3 linked regions of the Homo sapiens genome follow. The protein of the gene in region 1 interacts with the protein of each later gene in a pairwise test. Each region holds a gene or a part of one and is shown in the gene's direction. Other genes may lie near its edges.

Region 1 (5,358 bases):
TCTGAATTTGCCTCATTGTTTTTTCATTCAGTTGTATGTATGTTTATATTAATGTTCTCTTAGATTCCTTAGTCATTCCTTGGCATTAACAGCTAAGTGCTTAATGAATAATTTTATTAATGAAATAATTAGTTCTTGATTTATCACAAGGGATATATGTAACAACCATAACAGATGTATAGTAGGCATTTGTTTATACTTGATAAGAAAATATGTGATACTTTGAAATTGAAGTGTTATGACCCATTTCTTTGGGTTGGTGGGATTTATTGCAGATCACCTGAAAGAACCATTCTTAGAAGCCACTGACAATTCTCATCTGAGGTCCATGCCAGCAAGCTTCCTTCCTCCTTCATCAGTGAAGAAACGAGGTATTATTTTTTGGGCTTATTTTATAAAGGAATCAGTATTCCAAATGACAAATATATGATTAAATTTATACTGTTACGAATAACTTCTGGGACAGATAGTTTGTCACTGTGGATTAGTGCATTATTAATACCAAAATTAGTTTTATGATCTATTTAGTTGTTAACATTGAGTGTATACAAGTATTGTGCTAGTCAGGGAAACAACAGGTAAAAAACTGACCTTGACCTAGAGAAGGCAATTTTCTACTTAGGAATGTAGACAGATAATTTTACAACACTGTTGATAAATAAAACCCACAGATTCAGTGTCAAGAAGTGTGCAGAGCAGGGAGGGAAGCTTGTGAAATGGGAGGGGTAGTTAGGGAGGACGTTGTTCAGGAAACAGTGGAAACAAAGGACCTTGGACCTGGAGGATGAGTGGGAGTTCATGAGGTGGACACTAAGATGAGGAACTTCTAGGTAGATGGAATAACATTGCCAAAGGATGAGAAATGGTGGCACTTTCAAGGAACTCAAGCAGTTTCCTATGGCAGGAGCATAGGGTGGGTGTCAGAGTGGGAGACAGACCATTAACATTTAATCTTACAGACAATGGAAAGTCATTTGAAGTGTTTTCTTGTTACTAACTTTATTGATATATAATTCACAAATCAGTTTGCCCATTTAAAGTGTACAGTACAGTGACTTTTTTAGTATATTCACAGTGTGTGCATCACCACCACAATCAAATTTAGAACATTTTTATCTTGCCCAAAGAAACCCCGTACCCATTGGTATTCACTCCCCATTTCCTCCCAACACTCAGCCCTAGGCTACCCCTAATTTACTTTCTGTGTCTAGATTTGTCTATTTGGGATGTTTCCTAAAGGCATTGTATAGTAAAGCCCTTTGGAACTGGCTTTTCATTTAGCACAATGTTTTTGAGGTTCATTCATGTTGTAGCATGTTTCAGTTCTTCATTTGTTTTTATGGCCAAATAATCTTCCATTGTGTGGCTATATTACATTTTGTTTAGCCATTCATCAATTGATAGATATTTGGGTTGTTTCTACTTTTTGGTTATTACAAGCAATGCTGCTATGAACATCTGTGTGCGAGTTTTTGTGTGGACATATATTTTCATTTTTCTTGGTTATATACCCAAGAGTGATATTGCTGGATTACATAGTAGTTCACGTTTAACTTTTTGAGGAGCTGCTAGACTTGTTTTCCAAAATAGCTGTCCCAGTTACATTCCTTTCAGCAGTGTGTGAGTTCTAATTTCTCCACATCCTTGTCAGTGAACACTTGTATTATCTTTGTGTGCATAGCCATCCTAGTAGTGTGAACTAGGCCTTTTATCATTGTGCTGATTTGCATTTCTCTCATAGATAATGATGTTGAACATCTTTTCATATGCATATAGGCCATTTGTTGTTTGGAGAAATGTATATTTAGACTTTGCATATTTTTTTAATTGGGCAGATTTAAAATTTATGTATTGTTGAGTTTCAAGAGTCCTTTATATATTTTAGGTACAAGTCCCTTATTAGATATGTGATTTGCAAAATTTTTCTCATTCTGTGGGTTTTCTTTCCATTCTTCTTAATGGTTTCCATTGAAGTACACATGGTTTAAATTTTCATGTTTATTTTTTCTTTCGTTGCTTGTGCTTTTGATGTCATATTTAGGAAGGCTTTGTCCAATCTAAGTTCAAAAAGATTTACTCCTATGTTTTCTTTTTCTTTTTTTTTTTTTGAGATGGAGTTTCGCTCTTGTCGCCTAGGCTGGAGTGCGATGGTGCGATCTCGGCTCATTGCAACCTCGGCCTCCCAGGTTCAAGCAATTCTCCTGCCTCAGCCTCCCGAGTAGCTGGGATTATAGGTGCTCGCCACCGTGCCCAGCTAATTTTTGTATTTTTAGTAGAGACGGGGTTTCGCCATGTTGGCCAGGCTGGTCTCAAACTCCTGACCTCAGGTGATCCACCCACCTCAGCCTCCCAAAGTCCTGGGATTACAGGCATGAGCCACCATGCCTGGCCTGTTACTCCTATATTTTCTTCTAAGAGTTTTATAGTTTTACCTCTTAAATTTAGCTCTTTGATCCATTTTGAGTTAAATTTTGTGTCTGTTGAGAGGAAGGGGTCCAGCTTGATTTGTTTGTGTGTGGATATTCAGTTGTCCCAGTATCATTTGTTGAAAAGACTGTTTGTTCCCCAGTGAATTTTCTTGCCCTTGTGGTCAAAATTCCCTTGACTGAAAGGTAAGGGTTTCTTTCAACAATATTTTGTAGTTTTCAGAGTATAAGTTTTGCATTTCTTTTGTTAAATTTATTCCTAAGTATTTTACCTTTTTTGATACTTTTGTAAATGGAATTTTCTTAAAGAGGCAGTGGCATGATTAGACTTTTATTTCAGGAATATACTCTGACATTTTTGTGGAGGATGGTTTGGAGGAAAGTCTAGTAAAACATACACTAAGATTAATTATTCTGTCAATGATGATAAAAGGCCAGAACTAGGGTTGTAAAATGAAAGGTAATGAATAAATTTGGGTAATATCTAGGATGTAGAATGTAAAAAACGTGATGATTTGGATATTATAATGAGAGTGAAATCTCTTGATGTAAATTCCAGGTTTCTGGCTTAGATAGTTTTGCCAGCCATTTGCTGACATAGGAACAGGAAAAGGAGTTAATTGGGTTTTCTTTCTTTTTTCTTAGTTTGTCTTAAAGGTTTGCTGATTTTATCTTTTCAAAGAACCAACTTTTCATTTTGTTATCTTTTGTATTTTTTTCATTTCATTTATTTTGGCTCTGATCTTTATTATTTTCTACTAATTTGGGGTTTGGTTTGCTCTTGCTTTTCTGGTTGAGATGCACTGTTAGGTTGTTTATTTGATGTTTTCCTGCTTTTTTGATGTAGGCACTTACTGCTAAAAACTTTCCCTTTAAGTATTGCTTTTGCTGTGTCTCACAGGTTTTATATATTGTCTTTGCATTTTTATTTCTATCAAGAAATTTTTATATTTACTTCTTAATTTCTTCATTGACCCACTGGTCATTCAAGAGCATGTGGTTTAATTTCCATGTGTTTGTATACACAGTCTCCAAAGTTCCTCATAGTACTGATTTCTAGTTTTATTCCACTGTGGTCAGAGAAGATACTTGATATGATTTCAATTGTTTTTTGAATTTTTTAAGCCTTGTTTTGTGGCCTACCCATGATCTATCCTTGTGAATGATCGATTTGCTGAGGAGAAGAATGTGTATTCTGCAGTTGTTGGATGAAATGTTCTGTGAATATTTGTTAGGTCTGTTTGGCCTGTAGTCCAGATTAAGTCTGATGTTTGTTGTTTATCTGTCTGGATGATCTATTCAGTGCTGAAGGTGGGGTGTTGAAGTCTCCAGCCATGATTGTATTGGGGTCTGTCTCCTTAGCTCTAATAATATTTCCTTTATATATCTGAGTGCTCCGGTATTGGGTGCATATGTAATTGTTACATCCTCTTGCTGAATTGACCCCTTTATCATTATCTAATGACCTTCTTTGCCTCTTTTTATAGTTTTTGTCTTGAAATCTATTTTACTGATGTAAATATCACTATGCTCTTTTTTGGTTTCCATTTGCATGGAATATCTTTTTCCATCCCTTCATTTTCAGTCTCTTTGTGGCTTTATAGGTGAAGTGTGTTTATTTTAGGCAGCAGATCGTTGGTTCTTTTTTTAAATCCATTCAGCCACTTACGCCTTTCGAGTGGAGTTTAGTCCATCTACATTGAATGTTATTATTGGTAAGTGCGTACTATTGCCATTTTGTTTTTGTTTTCTGATTGTTTTGCTGTCTTTTCTTCCGTCCTGTTTCCTTTCTGTGAAGGTAATTTTCTCTGGTAGTATGTTTTAATTTCTTGCTTTTAATTTTTTTGCCTACCTCTTGTAGGCTTTTGATTTGAAATTACCAGGAAGCTTGCAGGTCATATCTTATAACCGATTATTTTAAACTGATGACAACTGATTCCACAAACGAGCAGAGAAAACTAATAAAAACTCTACACTTTATCCTCCTTGCTTTTTAACTTTTGTGAGTTTTGTACCTTCATGTAATTGCTTACTGCTCGTTAAGGTCCTTTTCTTTTAGATTGAAGAACTCACTTCGGCATTTCTTGTGGGAAAGTTTGGTGTTGATGAAGTCCCTCGGCTTTTGTTTGTCTGGGAAAGTCTTTATTTCTCCTTCATGTTTGAAGGATATTTTCACTGGATATACTATTGTAGCATAAAAGTTCTTTTCCTTCAGCACTTTCAGTGTGTCTTGCCCCTCTCTCCTGGCCTGTAAGATTTCCACTAAGTCTACTGCCAGACATACTAGAGCTCCATTGTTTGTTGTTTCCTTTCTCTTGTTGCTCTTAGGATCTTTTCTATATCCTTGACCTTTGGGAGTTTGATTATTAAATGGCTTGAACTAGTCTTGTTTGGATTAAATCAATCACCAATCCTTGCTTGGTGTTCTGTAGCTTTCTTGTGCTTGAATATTGATATCTTTCTCTAGATTTGGGAAGTTCTCTGTTATTTTTTCTTCAAATAAACTTTCTACCCTCATCTTTCTATCTCCTTTTAAAGGCCAAGAACTTAGATTTGCTCTTTTGAAATTATTTTCTAGATCTTGTAGGTGTGCCTCATTCTTGATTATTCTTTTTTCTTTTGTCTCCTCTGTGTATTTTCAAATAGCCTGTTTTCAAGCTTACTAATTCTTTCTTCTGCTTGATCAGTTCTACTGTTGAGATTCTGCCATGTTCTTCAGTAAGTTAATTGAATTTTTTATCTCCAGAATTTCTGCTTGATTCTTTTAAATTATTTCAGTTGTTTTGTTAAACTTACCTGATAGCATTCTGAGTTCCTTCTCTGTGTTGTCTTGAATTTTGTTGAGCTTCTCCAAAACAGCTATTTTGAATTCTCTGAAAGCTCACATCTCTGTTACTCTGGGATTGGTCACTGGTGCCTTATTTATTATTGT
Region 2 (5,358 bases), on another chromosome or scaffold:
CAGTGGCTGTATTTCCAATCCCTTTCTTGACTTTGATGTTTTCTGATGAACACACACTGGCTTCACCATACGCTTCTTTCAAACTGAATATATTTTTCTAATGAGATCTGACTGGTGCCTGACAAATAAACAGGTTTGTTCTTCTGGGTCATGTTAGCAGCAGTTCTTCCCCCCTTTTCCAGCTCTGGTTCAAACTCTTTCTGTTCCTTTTTACTTTTCCTGATTAAACTTCAGCTCCTCACAGACCAACAATTTCTCTTACCTCTTAGGATTACTTTGGAGTCTTAACACCTGCTTTCCAAGTTATCAGTTTTTCTACCATATTTACTACCAGTTTTCATTGGATGGTAGACCAAGTGCCTTTTTATTGAGGCTTGTCCCAAGTGAGGTACCTTTTGGCCCAGCCTCATGATACAAATACGCCCCTTGGTTGGGACTTTTACCTATAGTAATCATTTCATTCTAAACTGATGAGACTGTGATTTGTGGCAGAAAATCTTCTGTGTGATTACATCCATCTTGTTGAGTGCAGGTCTATATGTATTTCTTCCTGTATGTTTCCAAATTGCTTACTTTCCTGTACTTCATGTGCTTGAAATTAAATGGATAGCCTTTGAATTTCCAGGACAGTTCTTTTTTTTTAAATGAACTTCTTCTAACCTTCAGGTATATTCTGTTTCTATAATGAGGTCCACAAAATACCAGTTAGTGGCTTTGCTACGTAGCACCTGCCAATTTCTTAGTTCCTCCAAGAAGCTTGGTGCAGGCTCCGTTGATCGGAACACATCAAGCTTTTAAAGTTCATCTTCCAGCAAGCTCCTCCTATCTAGTTTTGTCTATTATCCCTGGGCCTGTTCTTCATAACTCCCTTAGAAATATCACTCCTTTCCCATTTTCATGGGCATTGCTGATATGAATTTGTTCCAGGTCACAATTTGGGTCTGCAGCAGAAATGCTTTCAGAACAGACAGCAGCGCTGGGGACAGGATGGGAATCAATGAATGTACAGCTGGATGGAGCAGAGCCCCAGGTGGAAAGGGGAAGCCAGGAAGAGCGGCCATGGAGAACAGTACCAGGACCTCTGGAGCACCTGTGCTGTGACCTTGAAGAGGAGCCACAGTCCCTTCAGGAGAAGGGTGAGAACTCACAGAGTGTGTGGGAAGCACAGTGCATAGTCTCCTAATATTTATTCCAAAAGTAGGGTTAAAAATCTCCAAATTGCCATGGACTAAATAGCATAACCTGTACCAGGACCAGCCCATTCTTTCTCAGCCCTGGTCACAGGTACAGAATAGGCTCCTGAATTCAGCAAACCATGCAACTGGGCTTCTCTTGTTTCTTCATAATTACTCCCTCCACATGCAAATGCATAATTAGTGATACTGAATGAGGGAGATGAAGGAAGTGACAGCAACCTGATTACTGTTGGATAACCCACTCAGTAAGATGTAATTTACTAGATGAAAATTACATTCAAGTACTGTAAATTCAAACTATAGCTAGTCTAACTAAAAGCCATCTGATACCCTTTCAGAACATTTTGAGTGATGGCCTTCTCATCTACATTTATGCATTTGAGTTTTACCAATGGGCATAGATACAGAAGTTGTGACCCTTAAGCCTCTCTAAAATGGGGCCCAGGCCCCATTGAGAAAGGGTAGATCGTTATTCTCTAATGTTTCTTCTCTCTCCTTATCAGCTCAGTCTGCTCCCTGGGTTCCTGCAATTCCCCAGGAGGGGAACACTGGAGACTGGGAGATGGCAGCTGCACTTCTTGCGGCTGGATCACAGGTGAGCTCTGCTTCCCTTGGCGTCTCCTGTGGTCCCATCACTGCTGCCTTTGTATTGCTTTCGCATCAGCCCATTGATGAGTTGGCTCACATGATCATCAATGGTATGTTCATCTTATAACTGAATAGATTCTATCCCTTTCCAAGGGGTCATAAGACCCTTGGAAAATTAAATGGACCTACAAGAAAGGGAATTCCTTGAGGTTAGGGTTTTTTTGAGTTTTGTTTTGTTTTTTGTTTTTGAGACAGAATCTCACTGTGTTGCCCTGGTTGGAGTGCAGTGGTATGATCTTGGCTCCCTGCAACCTCCACCTTCTGGGTTCAAGCGATTCTTGTGCTTCAGCCTCCCAAGTAGCTGGGACTACTGGCACACGCCACCACACCTAGCTAATTTTTGTGTTTTTAGTAGAGACAAGGTTTTGCCACGTTGGCCAGGCTGGTCTTGAACTGCTGACGTCAGGTGATCTGCCCACCTCAGCCTCCCAAAGTGCTGGGGTCACAGGTATGAGCCACCGTGCCTGGCCAAGGTTAGGGTTTTTAATGGATGGCTGTGTTTGTTATCCACAGGAGGATTTTAAGAATAATTAATTACCTTCCTTTAAGAAATAAATCTGGAAAGATTAGGAAAAGAGGACCTGAAGAAAGCTTAGAAGAACCTAAAGTGGAAGGATTGGGTAGATGAGGGAGCATTTATGGAAAAGAAGAGGAAGAAGGTTATAAAGAGGGGCAGAGCTAGAAAGGAAATTAGGTTTAGATTCAGAAGGCAATAGGAGAGCTGTGGAAAGCTAATACTAATAGTGTTAGTACTAATAGAGTACACCCCCAGAGTGTTTATCATGTATGCCATTTTCTGGGTGCTTTATGTATATTAACTCATTTAATTCTGAGAACAACTCAGTTATCCAATTTTACAGATGAGGAAATGGGGCAGGGAGAGATTAAGGCACTTGTGTAGGTCATGCTGCAAGAAAGTGGCAAAGCTGAGTCACTTGGCTCCAGATTCTGAGCTCCTAACCACCATACTGTGCTGCCTAAAAATATAAAGATATGGCCAGGCACGGTGGCTCATGCCTGTAATCCCAGCACTTTGGGAGGCCGAGGTGGGCAAATCACAAGGTCAGGAGTTCGAGACCAGCCTGGCCAACATGGTGAAACCCCGTCTCTACTAACACCACAAAAAAAATAGCTGGGTGTAGTGGTGGGTGCCTGTAATTCCAGCTACTTGGGAGGCTGAGACAGGAGAATCGCTTGAACCTGGGAGGTGGAGGTTGCGGTGAGCCAAGATTGTGCTACTGCACTCCAGCCTGGGCGACAGTGAGACTCCGTCTCAAAAAAAAAAAAATGCTGTGGCAAGGGAGGCAAGAAAGAATGTTTTATCTGTAGCATTTTGTGCTGATAGAAAAGGCAGGGTCCAGTGGAAGAAGGAGGAAATGGTACATAATTTCTTCATAAAAAGAGTAAGGCCAGGGAGAAGTGACTGAGTAGACACCTGTAGCTAAACAGAGGTGGTGATGAGTTTATGGTGCCTCCAGCTTCTCATGGCCCCACTTGGGAAATTCCTCCAGTAACATTACACTCACTCACTCCTTGACCATCTACCTTTACTCCTCTCCTCATTTCCCTGTTACCAAAACTATGTGCCCTACCCAGGGACTTCTGGGCAGCTCTTTTCTCAGATCATTTCTCACCCTCTCTCCTCTACTAACTTAGCCTTTCATACTGAATCACATTTTCCTTAAAAAACAGCTGCTGACAGAAGATGCTACATTTTGTTTCAGGGCCTGGTAACCATCAAGGATGTGTCACTGTGCTTCTCTCAGGAGGAGTGGCGGAGCCTGGACCCCTCTCAGACAGACTTTTATGGAGAATATGTCATGCAGGAAAACTGTGGGATAGTAGTCTCTCTGAGTAAGCATGACCTTCTCCAGCCACTAGAAGATTGGACTCTGGGAGGACGGAGCCATCTGCTTCAGGGCTATTGGATAGTGTCTGTCTAGGACTCTTTATGTGGCAGGGAATCTGTCTATGCTTCCGCTGGAGAAAGAACACTAGGGCCAATCCCAAGAGAATGAGAGTAAATATCATTAAAAAAAAAAAAGTAAAAAAGCAAATGATGCTTAATTGTGGAGTAGAACTTGAGGTTCTTCTTGGTTGGGAATTAGGAGGTTCTCATAAAGCAGAGAGAACTGGAACTGGGTCCTTGTAAACTTGGGAACCATGTAGAGGAAGATAGGGATGCAGGGAGTAGGACTGTCGTAGTAGGACTAAAGTGAAGTTACGCCCAGAAAGGCCAGCTGGGCTGGAAGTATCTGAGTGGAAGAAAACAGGTTCATTGGGAAGGAGAGTGATTTTCTAGGCAGAGAAGAGGGACTTAACAGAAATGGGTGGGGGAAGAGGTTGGGGTGGGGATATGTTTCTTTCTTGACCTTCTTTTGTCTAGAGTTCCAAACAATAGGAAACAGTTTTTTGTATTTTTTTTTCAGAAATATAGAATTGCTGTTGAACTAATTGACAGCTCTATTTTCCTTTCCCATGAGCAGGATTTCCAATTCCCAAACTGGACATGCTTTCTCAACTAGAAGGAGGAGAAGAACAATGGGTCCCTGACCCCCAGGACTTAGAGGAGAGGGACATTCTGAGGGTCACATATACAGGTAAGAACCTAGAATAGGCTTTCAGCCACTTCCTTCACAGTTCGGGACATCATCATTCCATGTTCGTTTAATCCCTCCTCTGCCTCAGAGAGTTCCAGAGACAAAAGGTTTAGAGATTTTTTTCTTCAAAAGCAAGGGAGTGTAATAGAATGATGTAGCAGGCACTTTGTGGATTTGAATTCTGGGCTGTAGTTGTGGGACCTTGGAAAAGTAATAAAACTCCCTTTGGTTTCTTCATCTGTAAATTATTGTGAAAATTAAATATATGAATATATTAGAATATTAGAATAGAACAGTGCCAAGCACATAATAAGCACTCAATAAATGTTAGTTGTTGTTATTGTTGATATTGTTGTCAACCTCCCACCCATTTCAGGAATGCCTTGAGGACTGCCGACAGGTGTCATTCAGCCAGTGACAATTGCGGCACATTCTGTAATTCTCTCCATCTATGCTTAGATAGAAAGATGCTGATTAATAGTAATATACAGTAGTAAATAAATAATGGTAATAAATAATAACAATAACATATACAATTTACTAAGTACTTAAACTATGTGCAGGTTCTGTGCTATCTATCTTATAACTGCCGGAGAGAGAGGTATTATTCCAATTTTACAGAAGAAATGAAGGTTTAGGGAAGTTAAGTGGGAAAGCTGAGATTCCATCTTAGGTAATCTGCCTCCTAAGCCTAGGCTTTTAACCTCTATATCTATTGCACTGTCTTGTACGACATTAGACTATGTTCTCTCAGCCCTTCTGGGGTCAAGTCTGGGCCCTGGCAGGTATCAGACAACCTCATTTGTGACTTAGGCCTCAAGCACTCTCTTGTGACTCTTCTCTTGGGGTTGGTATTTCCCCTTCTCCGCAGGAGATGGAAGTGAACATGAGGGGGATACCCCTGAACTAGAAGC
Region 3 (5,358 bases), on another chromosome or scaffold:
AGTCCTGGCTCTGCTTCCCCTGTGAGCTTGGCCCCTACCACTGGCTCTCCTCCCTGAGCCTCAGTTTCTTTGTCTGTAAAATGGGGGAGAGGTTGGATCAGGTCTTCCTATAGATGGTTCTGGCACAGATCCCAGGAATAAAGCAGCAGGGATCGGGGGATCCACACCTCCTCTTGAAGCTGGTAAAAGACACTAGTCAGAGGGAAAGAGGTTTGTCAGAGCTCGGACCCTTGAAGTCAAGCAGGGCAGTAGAGCCCTGCAGTAAGCTTCTCTCGGCCCTTGGCAGCTCTGAGTTGGGCTTTCTTCTGAATGAACTCGGCCGCCCGAAGCCTCTTCCTGCTGCTCCATTCAGCCCTGCATCCCCAGCTGCTTATCTGGGCCTTGGTCCAGCACAGGAAAAGAGGCACGACCAGACAGTGGGATCCAGCACTAGGACACTGGGGAGGAAAAGCCCTGCTGGGGAGGCTCCTGATCTCGCACCTGGGGCAGCGCCAGGAGAGGCAGCGGGAGAAGATGGGGTGCCTAAGGAAAGAGAGAAAGGACTCTTGGGCTGGGAATCAGGAGATTTAATTCTGTCTCTGTTTCTGCCACCAGCCAGCGGGACAATTCAGAAAAGTGACTTTTCTTTTCTTGTTTTTTTTTTTGTTTTTTGTTTTTTGTTTTTTTTCAGACGGAGTCTTGCTCTGTCGCCCAGGCTGGAGTGCAGTGGCGCGATCTCGGCTCACTGCAAGCTCCGCCTCCCGGGTTCACGCCATTCTCCTGTCTCAGCGTCCCGAGTAGCTGGGACTACAGGCACCCGCCACCACGCCCGGCTAATTTTTTTTTATATTTTTAGTAGAGACGGGGTTTCACCGTGTTAGCCAGGATGGTCTTGATCTCCTGACCTCGTGATCCACCCACCTCGGCCTCCCAAAGTGCTGGGATTACAGGCTTGAGCCACTGCGCCCGGCCAAAAGTGACTTTTCTTCTTCTGGGCTTTGACTTCCTCATCTGAAAAATGGGAATATTAGAACTATAGCATTACTGTAAGCATTTCGAGAGAAAATTAAAGTGAAGGTTATGTAGCACAATGCCTGGCATGTAACGTTCATCGTTGGCTTGATCCATAGAGACTGGATGGGCGTGATAGTGAGAATTGCTCAGCTACGAGTTGCTGTGTGAACATAGCAAGTCACTTTCCTTCTCTGGGGTCTCCATCTCCATATCCGAGGTTCTTTCCAGCTGAGATCCCATTCCAACCCTTCCCCCAACTTCTTCATTCTGCATGAGGATAGGAAAATGTTTCCAGGGTTAAGGATGGGTAGGGATGGCGTCTGTGTGCCTCTCAGTCTGGAAAATGGAGAGCAGAATATTCGCTATCCTCCTTAAAAATCCAGATACGGGCCATAAATCATGTGGAAATCATGTGTGCTCTGTTGCTCTGTGCAAAATGCAAAATGTATGCTCACCCTGAAAACAACTATGCAAGAAATACGCATGCACTTGGACAGACAGGAGAGTGAGTACACAAAGTCAAGACAAGTGTGTTTGGAGGTGGCTGGGCTGCCTTATTTTTCTTTCTATGAGGATACCTTCATGTTGCTGCAATTCTGTTTATGCGATTCTCAGAGATCCTCAGAAGGGGGCTGCCCTTCCTGTCCCATGTGGGGGCATCTCCTCCCTGCCCCTCCCGCTCTCCCATGGTTTCTGATGTGGCCACCCTTGAGCCACTGTACTCTGTGGTCCTTCAGCCCCTTGGCCAGTATGAGAGAGAGGGTCTGGGCTCCAAGAACTGGGATAAAGGACCAGAGGGAGAGCAGGTCGTTTCTCCAGATGGAAACACTAGGTCTGTGTGCTGTCCCCTCCTTCCTCTGGCTAAGGGGAAGGGATGTCTGGCTTCTCTAGAGGGAACTGGCTTGGGATCCCAGAGAAGCCCCAGCTGGGAGGGTGTGGGGAGGAGAAGGAGGAGGAAGAAAAGGTCTGTTTTCTCAGAGGGGAGCAGCAGGAAGCTGCAAGGATGTTTGCCCAGCACACCCGTTTACTCCCTGCAGCTGGGGAGGCCAGGTGTGGGAGTGACGGGGACCCAGGGACCAGCCCAGCATTGCGGGGAGGCGGTGGGGGCTAAGGCTGATCGCTACTCCCCACACGCCTAGCCTGGCTTCTCCTGAGCTAACTGGGAAGCAGAGAGGCACCCCCACCCCCAGCCTTCGGGAGATTTAGGGAGATTAGAGAAGTATGTGTGTTTGGGTGTTCCTATGTCTGTGGGTGGGCCTTTAACAGTCCTTAAAAGGGGAGATTTGTGTGTGTTTCTGTTTAAGTTCTCACCAACAGGAAAGAGGACAGAAGTGCTAAGGCACTCTGGTCTCAGAGTGCAATCTGCTAGAAAAGATCTAATGAAAAACCTACTGGAGGAGCCCAAATCTCAGGGTGCCTATTCAGAAAGGAGACCTCTGATACCTACTCTATCAAAACATTAAGTTCGTTTTGAGCAGAGGTTTGATTTGGGTTTTGCTTCCCCCAGTGTTGAGGGAACAGTTCCTTGAGTCAGGGGCTTGGTCTGTCTTGTTCACTGCTGTATCCCAGTGCCTAACAACCGTTGATGAATGAATAAATCGATGGATGGATGAATGAATGGATGGATGGATGAAGAAAAAGGGGCCCAAACCAGACCCCACATTCTTAGAGAAGAGGGAAAAGTGTCCTTAAGCCCATCTATTTGCAGCCATCGAGGTCCTGCAGACCCTGCACTGTCTCTGGGGTCCAGGAAGGGCTCTCCATGGTTTTTAATGAGTTCTCATTACCTTGAGCCATCCCCCTACTGCACAGGCCTCTGCAGCCCCTGGTCTAGAATAGTCTACAGCTGGCTGACCCACAGGGGATTTGAACTTGTGGCTCAGGTGTCACTCTTGAGCACTGTCTCTAGGGCTTCCGTTTTCCCCAGTTTCTTCTTCAGATTGCTCTAGGACTCCTGGATCCATACTCACCCAATTTAAGACTAAGCCTTTTCCAGCCCTGCCTCAGAGCCCTTGCACATGCTGTTCCTGTCATCTGGACTGCTTTTCCCCCAGTCTGTCCATCTCAGCCTTCTGATCCCAGCTCAAATATTGCCTCCTTAGGGAACGCTCCCTGACTACCTAAAGTGGGACCCCCCTGTTCTTTTCTGTTTTAGTCTTTTGATATCTTCTAGCCCTTAACCCAGTTTGCAATTATTTTAATGGCCTATTGTCTATTTCCTCCACGAGAAAGTAAGTTCCATAAGAGGAGAGTCCATATCAGTTTTGTGCATTGACATAAACCTAGCACAGTCACATGGGACAAAATAGATGCTCAATGTAGTAAAATTCTACAATAATGCAATAAATATGCCCAGTCAAAAATTTCCAATTATGTTCCTTTGCGGTGACTCATGCTTGTAATCTCAATGCTTTGGGAGACCAAGGTAGGAGGATTGCTTGAGCCCAGGAGTTCAAGACCAGTCTGGGCAACATAGGGAGACCTCGTCTCTACAAAAAATAAAAAAAAAATGAGCCGGGCATGGTGGCATATGCCTGTGGTCCCAGCCACTTAGGAGGCTGAGGAGGGAGGATCACTTGGGCTGGGGAGGTTGGGACTGCAGTGAGCCATAATGGCATCACTGCACTCCAGCCTGGGCAACAAAGCCAGACCCTGTCTCTAAAAGTAATAATAATAATACAAATTTAAAAATAAATTTTCCAATTACATAAAATGTGGAGTAATATTTTTGTAGAATTAACGAAAAACAGTATTTTTCAGATGGTCTGTACTATCACAAAAAGCAGGAAAGTAAAAATTGTGACACCTTACTGCACAAAGCAGACCAAACAGAAAGAGTACCACAGGAGCATGAGGCAGTCACTTTTTTTTACCAGCCCCATAGAGAATGGAGTTTTGCTCACTTTTATTTGAGAAGGGGCCTGAGCATAGAACAGAAGTCAAGTTTGGGTCACATTGTAGTGAACTTTGCTCTATTTCAAGGACTTACTATATTTGTAGAGAAAATTACTTTAGACTGGGGCAATCCTTGTAAGGGAAGGGAAAAATTGTTTTAAAAAAATCCCAGGCTGGATGTGGTGGCTCACACCTGTAATTCCAGTACTTTGGGAGGCGGAGGCAGGGGGATCACTTGAGGCCAAGAGTTTGAGACCAGCCTGGGCAACACAGAAAGACTCCGTCTCTACAAAAAATAAAAAATAAATTATCCAGGCATGGTGGCACATACCTGAAGTCCTGGCTGCTTAGGAGACTGATGTGGGATGATCACTTGAGCCCAGGAGTTCAAGGCTGCAGTGAGCTATTATCACGCCACTGCACTCCAGCCTGGGCAACAGAGCAAGACCCAAAAAATCAGATCTAAGTGTTCAAGAGGTGTACTTATGATTCCTGAAGGGATCCTGGGGTTTTCAGGATCCTGGACTGGCCATCCCTTAGGGTGGTGGGGATGCTGGGTCCCACAGAAGTGCTGTCTGTGCCCCGATATGTTGTGAGGTCCCTCCGGCTTCCCTGGACCAGCTGGGAATTCACTTGCTCATTCATTAATACACATGTCCATTCCTTCAGCAACTGGGCACTGAAGGAACATCTATGCTGGTGCCAGGGTAACCCAGATGAAGAAAACACACTTGACCCTCCAGTCAATCGCGGACGAATGAGAGAGACAGAGAGGGAAATAGGCAGTATCAACACCATGGTGGGCGCCATGATGGAGCAGAGCATGGCAGGAGGCTGAGCCAGGCTACAGGTCATGAAAGCTTTCTCAGAAGGTGATCTCTGCACATGCTGCCCCAATTTCCCTCTTCCTTAGTGGCAAAGGAGTTATTAGAAGGCTTTTCTGGCCAGGCATGGTAGCTCATGCCCATAATACCAACACTTTGGGAGGCTGAGGCAGGTGGATCACCTGAGTTCAGGAGTTTGAGACCAGCCTGACCAACATGGTGAAACCCCATCTCTACTAAAAATACCAAAAAAATTAGCCAGGCATGGTGGCATGTGCCTGTAATCCCAGCTACTTGGGAGGCTGAGCCAGGAGAATCGCTTGAACCCAGGAGGTGGAGATTGCAGTGAGCCAAGATCGCACCATTGCACTCCAGTCTGGGCAACAAGGGCAAAACTCCATCTCCAAAAAAAAAAAAAAAGGCATTTCCACAGGGACTGGGGCCATGTTCCTTTTACTGAACACGTATAGGCATTATTATCCATTGTGCACTCTGCTCAAGGGCAGGAGTCCTATGGAGAGTCAAAGAGGGGAGCAAGAAGAAGCTACAAGCAAGTTCTCTCATTGTTCTAGTTTGAGATTTCCCCTCTAGAGCAAGGAAAATTCAGGATCTTTCATATCACAGGGTCCCTGTCTTCATCCTCACC

Evidence for each region. Proteins that work in one complex are often made in the same cells at the same time.
Region 2: the proteins of SQLE (region 1) and ZNF641 interact in a two-hybrid assay, tested with the Homo sapiens proteins (one large-scale study listed by BioGRID and IntAct).
Region 3: the proteins of SQLE (region 1) and CREB3L1 interact in binary tests that used the Homo sapiens proteins (3 or more experiments, as listed by UniProt).

The regions. Positions count from the first base shown.
Region 1 is NC_000008.11:125,011,262-125,016,619, forward strand, and holds part of SQLE (squalene monooxygenase), read left to right. Parts: intron 1-275; coding exon 276-371; intron 372-5,358. UniProt on the Homo sapiens protein: Catalyzes the stereospecific oxidation of squalene to (S)-2,3-epoxysqualene, and is considered to be a rate-limiting enzyme in steroid biosynthesis.
Region 2 is NC_000012.12:48,343,685-48,349,042, reverse strand, and holds part of ZNF641 (zinc finger protein 641), read left to right. Parts: intron 1-927; coding exon of another isoform or gene 928-952; coding exon 953-1,136; intron 1,137-1,699; coding exon 1,700-1,791; coding exon of another isoform or gene 1,792-1,894; intron 1,895-3,568; coding exon 3,569-3,698; intron 3,699-4,330; coding exon 4,331-4,444; intron 4,445-5,315; coding exon 5,316-5,358. UniProt on the Homo sapiens protein: Transcriptional activator. Activates transcriptional activities of SRE and AP-1.
Region 3 is NC_000011.10:46,279,539-46,284,896, forward strand, and holds part of CREB3L1 (cyclic AMP-responsive element-binding protein 3-like protein 1), read left to right. Parts: intron 1-5,358.